Regions from separate parts of the Homo sapiens genome. Here region 1 is linked to region 2. The links come from fine-mapping of genetic effects on gene expression. A gene starts in region 2. The other region holds a variant in brackets. All regions are shown on one strand. Distances are from middle to middle.

The links. PIP is the estimated chance that this variant, and not a neighbour inherited with it, causes the effect. A credible set is the group of variants that fine-mapping cannot tell apart.
Region 1: its variant is the best candidate, but not a certain one, in a credible set for the expression of NR1D2 in monocytes after LPS (Fairfax 2014, PIP 0.54).

The regions. Positions count from the first base shown.
Region 1 is chr3:23,972,362-23,975,274 of GRCh38, forward strand. All of the region lies in intron 7 of NR1D2 (nuclear receptor subfamily 1 group D member 2), which reads left to right. Among named protein-coding and RNA genes, the nearest start is that of NR1D2, 29 kb to the left of the region's middle. The variant A/G (reference allele first, on the strand shown) is at 1,288.
Region 2 is chr3:23,943,693-23,946,605 of GRCh38, forward strand. NR1D2 (nuclear receptor subfamily 1 group D member 2) reads left to right here and starts at 1,594. Exons shown (of 8, transcript NM_005126.5): 1 at 1,594-1,902. The coding sequence starts at 1,887. LOC124909354 (a long non-coding RNA gene) reads right to left here and starts at 1,488. Exons shown (of 2, transcript XR_007095845.1): 1 at 1-1,488. It also overlaps a transcript of NKIRAS1 not described here. RefSeq lists silencers at 1,458-2,647, 2,144-2,685.

The DNA of each region.
Region 1 (2,913 bases), 29 kb after region 2:
GAATAGCTCTAGCTGCTAAGGGGGAGAAAAATCTCAAACATGATGTTTGCCTGTAAGATTGGAAGAATCCTAGTATCATGGAAGGGGAATTATACCTGGAAGGTAAGTTTCTTTTCAGGTTGTTTAAAGTAACAGCAGCCACTTCCAGTTGAAGATTAAGGACTTGCATGTAGGTGTGAGGTCAAGGCTCATTTACATACAGACTTCAGTTGTCTTCATAGAGATTTTTGTTGAAGGTTTGACTTTCATCCTGTAGGAAGTGAAAATAAATAGAATATTTGGTGAGGAGTACAAGCTTGGGAGTGCAATGAAGAACCAGCTAAGGAGAGAGAAGATAGAAGTGTCATAAATTAAACTCTGCAGTACTAGTGTAGCATTTAGTACACCATTTAGAAGATGAATTTCCACTTCAACATGTGTACTCTTAACATTATAGTCTCCAGAAGATTGTTTACCATCCAGCCAGGTTTGTACCTTAGGTTCTTTGGCCTTGAAATCTTAAAAACCATGGTTTTAGAAATGGAGGCTTTAGAAAAATTTAATACAATCTATGGTTTTAGATATAGGCATCCATTTCCCTGAAGTTCTGAGTTGTATAACGAAGCATAGGTCATCTAAACACAAAATAGCCACTGAAAGACCAACAACTTCAAACATTTTTAAATTTTTTGTGTGACTTCCTACACCTGTCCAACCAACTACTACTAATACTAGTTCCCACTCAGGTATCTTCCCAACTTATCAGTTGTTTCTTTCTTTGCCCACCTAGATTATTTTGTTTGTGGGGATTACTGTCATTCTTTCTCAGTTTTCGGTATTATAAATTACTAATCATATGATTGAAACCAGAGTCATGCGTCGCTTAATGACGTAAATATGTTCTGAGAAATGCATTGTTAGGCAATTTTGTCATTGTGTGAACATCATAGAGTGTACTTACATAAACCTAGATGGTATATCCTACTACACACCTGGGTTTTATGGTATAGCCTATTGTTACTAGGGTACAAACCTGTACACCATGTTACTGTGCTGAGTACTGCAGGCAGTTTGTAACACAATAAGTATTTGTGTATCTAAACATATCTAAACAAAGAAAAGGTACAGTAACAATAGATATGAAAGATAAAAGCTGGTATACTTGTGTAGGGCATTTACCATGAATGCAGCTTACAGGACTGGAAGTTGCTGTGGGTGAATGAGTGAGTGCATCGTGAGGGCATGTGAAGGCCTAGGATATTACTGTATATGACTGTAGACTTAATCACTGAACACGTACGGTACACT[A/G]AATTTATTAAAATTTTTTTTTCTTCCATAATAAATTAACCTTAGCTTGCTCTGTTTTACTTTATAAACTTAAATTTTTAAAAGCTTTTTGAGTCTTGTAGTAACACTTAGCTTAAAACAACACATTGTACAGCTATACAAAAATATTTTCTTTATATCCTTATTCTATAAGCTTTTTTCTATTTATAATTTATTTATTTACTTCTTAAACTTTATTGTTAAAAACTGTGACAGACACATACATTAGCTTAGGCCTACACAGGCTCATCATCATCAATATCACTGTCTTCCACCTCCACATTTTGTTCTACTGGAAGGTCTTCAGGAGCAGTAACATGCATGAGCTGTCATCATCTATCACCTTCTATATTTCTATGATAACAATGCATTCTTCAGGAATATCTCCTGAAGGACCTGCCTGAGGCTGCTTTACAGTTACCTTTTTTTTTTTTTTTTTTTTTTTTTTAAGTAGAAGGGACGGGCGAGGTGGCTCATGCCTGTAATCCCAGCACTTGGTGAGGCCCAGGCTGGTGGATCATTTGAGTTCAGGAGTTCTCAAAAAATGAAGTAGAAGGACTATACTGTAAAATAATGATAAAAAGTATAGTATAGTAAATACTTAAATCAGTAATATAGTTGTTTACTATTATTAAGTGTAATAGGTTTGCTTACCCCAGCATCACTATAAACGTGTTAGTTATGTGTTGTGCTATGATGTTACGACAACAAAAGCTGCAACGTCACTGGGCGATAGGAATTTTTCAGCAACATTATAATATTATGGGACCACCCTTTTATATGTGGTCTGCCATTAACTGAAACATTGTTACGTGGCACATGACTATTTTCCTCTGTCAGAATGTAAGCTCCTTAAAGGCATTCTTGTTTTGTTCACCGCTGATTTCCAAGCACCTTAGAACAGTAACCAGTACATATGTTTAATAAATGTTTGGCAAACGATTTCATCAAGTGAAATAGTGTTTTTTTTAAAAAAACCATTACTTGAATATCAAAGGCAAGAGGGACTCTTCAAATCATTACTGAAGGCTTTATTTTTATGAAGATAATTTATGATTGACCAAAGTTAAATGTCAAGAGAAAGAGGTCTCTGCCAGTAGTTTTGTCTGAAAAATTGTGACCCTCCCCCTACCCCCACAAACCAATATCCAATTTTTTTTTTTTTTTTTTGAGACAGGCTCCCACTCTGTCACCCAGGCTGGAGTGCAGGGGCATGATCTCGACTCACTGCAACCTCCATCCCCTGGGTTCAAGTGATTCTTGAGCCTCAGCCTTCCAAGTAGCTGGGATTACAGATGCCAATCACCATGCCCGGCTAAATTTTGTATTTTTAGTAGAGACGAGGTTTCACCATGTTGGCCAGGCTGGTTTCAAACTCCTGATCTCAGGTGATCTACCTGCCTTGGCCTCCCAAAGTGCTGAGATTACAGGAATGAGCCACCACGTCCTGCCCAACATTCTTTTTATTTTTTGAGACAGCATCTCGCTCTGTCACCCAGACTGGAGTGCAGTGGAATGATCGTGGGTCACTGCAGCCTTGACCTGGGTTTAAGTGATCCTCCCACCTTAGCCACCCAAGTAGCTGGGACTACTGGCATGTGTCACCAT
Region 2 (2,913 bases):
AAGCAAGCTACAAAGCGTGGCCTGGGGAACTCTTCCATCAGCATCACATGAGGGTGATAAATTCCAGAAGTAGGGAAGAATAGAGGGCTACCGTGATTAGGGAACTGTGTTTAGAAGGGTTTGGGTATCAAGACAGCCTTGGAAAGAGAAGCAGGACCCACATCTGTGCAGGGCGAAGCAGGTCAGGTTAAGTCGTTGAATTTTTTCAAAGTGTAACACGAAGCCATTGGAGGGTTTTCAGCAGAGTAATCAGATCTTATTTACATTTTAAAAATAATACTTTGACTGCTGGGGAGAAGTGACTGTAGGAGGACCCAAGAAGCACTCTCCTAGTTAGGGAACCAGAGCAGTAGCTGAGGCAAGAGATAATGGTTTGCTCTAGCAATACCAACGGTGAGAAACAGGGATTGAACATATTTTGAAGGTAGAATAGCTCAGACTTGCTAATGGATTGAATGGAGAATAAAAGGCTGTGAGAGTGTTAGGAGAGAAACATAATTTTGCTGGCTTCAGGAACTTGCAGATTTACCAAAACAGTAAATATTGATATGGTGAAGAAACCTGGGGGGTGGGGAAATAGGGTGTTGCACATGTAAATATGTCTTCCACGTGACATTTTCCCCACCTTCTATAGTGAAGAATTTCAGAGCAAACTGGAAAGAGTTTTACAAGCAACACCCATATCCCCATCGCCTAAGTTTAACATCTTACCATATCATCTATTCATGCCTCTATCAGCCCATCTTACTTCAGTAATGCGTTTAAATTGCGGGCATCAATGCACTTTCCTCAGAATTCACCTCAGCACGCATACAATTTATGTCTAGCTTTTTTCTTTTGATCTAAAATTTACATTCAAGGTGAAACGCCCAGATCTTGACTGCACATTAGCTGAGTTCGGACACACGCGTACACCCGTCTAAAATCTGAGATGCAAAAAAGCGGCATAATCAAACGGGCTGCTGGATGTAGGAATCTGGAGATTAGAAGAGAGGTCTTGGCTTGAAATATAAATCTGGGAATCACAAGAACATAGGTCTACTTAAGCTATGAGATTGGATAAAATCACCTAGAGGGTGCAGAGGGAAAGGGAAGGGTCTGTGCCCTCAGAGACCAGCGTTTGGAGGTCGGTCGGGTGGGAGCGGGGGGTGGGGGTGGGGGGCGCAAGGGTTGAGCAAGCCCGAACCAGCCGGCCCAGCCGGGGTCCTGAGAATCACCCTTGCTCGGCGCCAAGCCACCGCTTTGACCTAAGAGCCACCAGGTTGGGGGGCAGGGCGTGGAGAGGACTCCCGGCCAGAGGCGGGAAAGGCAGCCGGGAGGAGAGGAAAGAGGAGGAGGAGGGGAGGAATATGCGGCGGAGGGAAACGGAGAAGAGGTTTACGGCACGGAGGGGAAAAACGAAGGAAGAGGAGGGGCTCGGCAAGGAGAAGGAAGGGGAGAAGGGGGAAGCGCAGGAGAAAAGGGTAGCCGGGGAGCCGGGAAGCGGGCGGGAGGGAGGGGAGCGGCGGGGCGGAGGTCGCCGCAGCGGCCGGCCGAGGGCGGGCGGAGGGAGGGGGTGTGTGCGCGGGTCACATGGTCGCGGCTGCCCTCCCCGTCAGCCGCCCTCGCCGCCGCGGTGCGCTGGCTGCAGGAAGCCGCCGCGCCGCCGCTTTTGTTGTCAGGGACCCAGCGAGGAGCGCCGCTCGCCGGCCGCCGCCACCCTCTCTCGCTGCAGCCTGCTGTGCGCTGCACGGCCTGGGGCCCGGGAGCCCCGCCCGCTCTGCCCATGAGGGGGCCCCGCGACCACCGCTGCTTCCAGCCCGGGGCGGCGCGGCGCTGAGGCGGCGGCGGCGGCGCTGCCCCCTCTGCGGGAAGCGGGCGGCCCCGGCCGCCTCCGCGAGGGCACCATGGAGGTGAATGCAGGTAAGAACCGGACTGCGGCGGGTGGGGGATGGCCGGAGGGAGCGCTCAGAGCCCGCGGGGCACTTTGGGGGGCGGCGGCAGGGGGTGTCCCCATGGCCGGTGGGGCGGGGTGGGCTGCTGCGCGCCGCGTGTCCGCCTCTGGCTCGGTTCCCATCGCCCCCCGGGCCGCCCGGCGCCCGCCCTCTTGTCTCCCTGCAAAGCCGCAGCGCGGCCTGCCGGCGCCCGGCCCGGCCCCCCCCTCACATGGCCCGGCCGCGCGAGCCACGTGCGCGCTGTGTTTACGTTCGGCGGCGCGCGGGCGCCGGTTGGCTGGGCGGGCGCGTGACGCGGCATTACATAATGGGCGCTGAGGCGGCGGCGGCGGGCGGGGACACGTGAGGCCGCTCGGCTCCCTGACCCACATTCCCCGGGGCCGCAGGGACACGTGGGGGCGGGGGCGCGCGCGCGCGCGCTGGCTGGGAGCGCCGCAGCCTCCCGGGAGGCTCCGCCCCTTTGGAAGCCTCGGGGCAGTGACGTCGCCGCGATTCCCTCCTCCCCCGCGGGGTTGCACACTGCGGAGGAGGCCGCGCGTGCGCGCCCGCTGAGCCCCCGCGGCGGGGCGTCCCCGAAGCGGGCGCTGACACCGCAGTGCACCGGACGCCGCACGCTCTTTTCGCGAGGTGACCCCAAGGCGCGGACCCCGCGCAAACCAAACGAACCGGCGCCTGGGGAGGCTGGTAGCTGCATACCTTGCAGATTCCGAGGAGGAAGTGCAGGACGAGGGCGTGCTGCAGGCCGGAGGAGGCGCCTCGGGGAAGGCGTGGGGCTTTCCCGAAGGGATACGCTCGAAGGAGCTCTGAGGTGCTTCGATCCCGAGCGACTCCCCGCAGACTGGGTAGCACCGCCCCTGTTAGGATGCCGTCTGTTTACAAAAAAAACCGTTTGCTCTAGGACGCGACCTGTCTCATACACACACAGTCTTAAAAACTGCTTCCAGATCCCTTCGGGCTGGAGTTTTCCAGTAAACGGGTC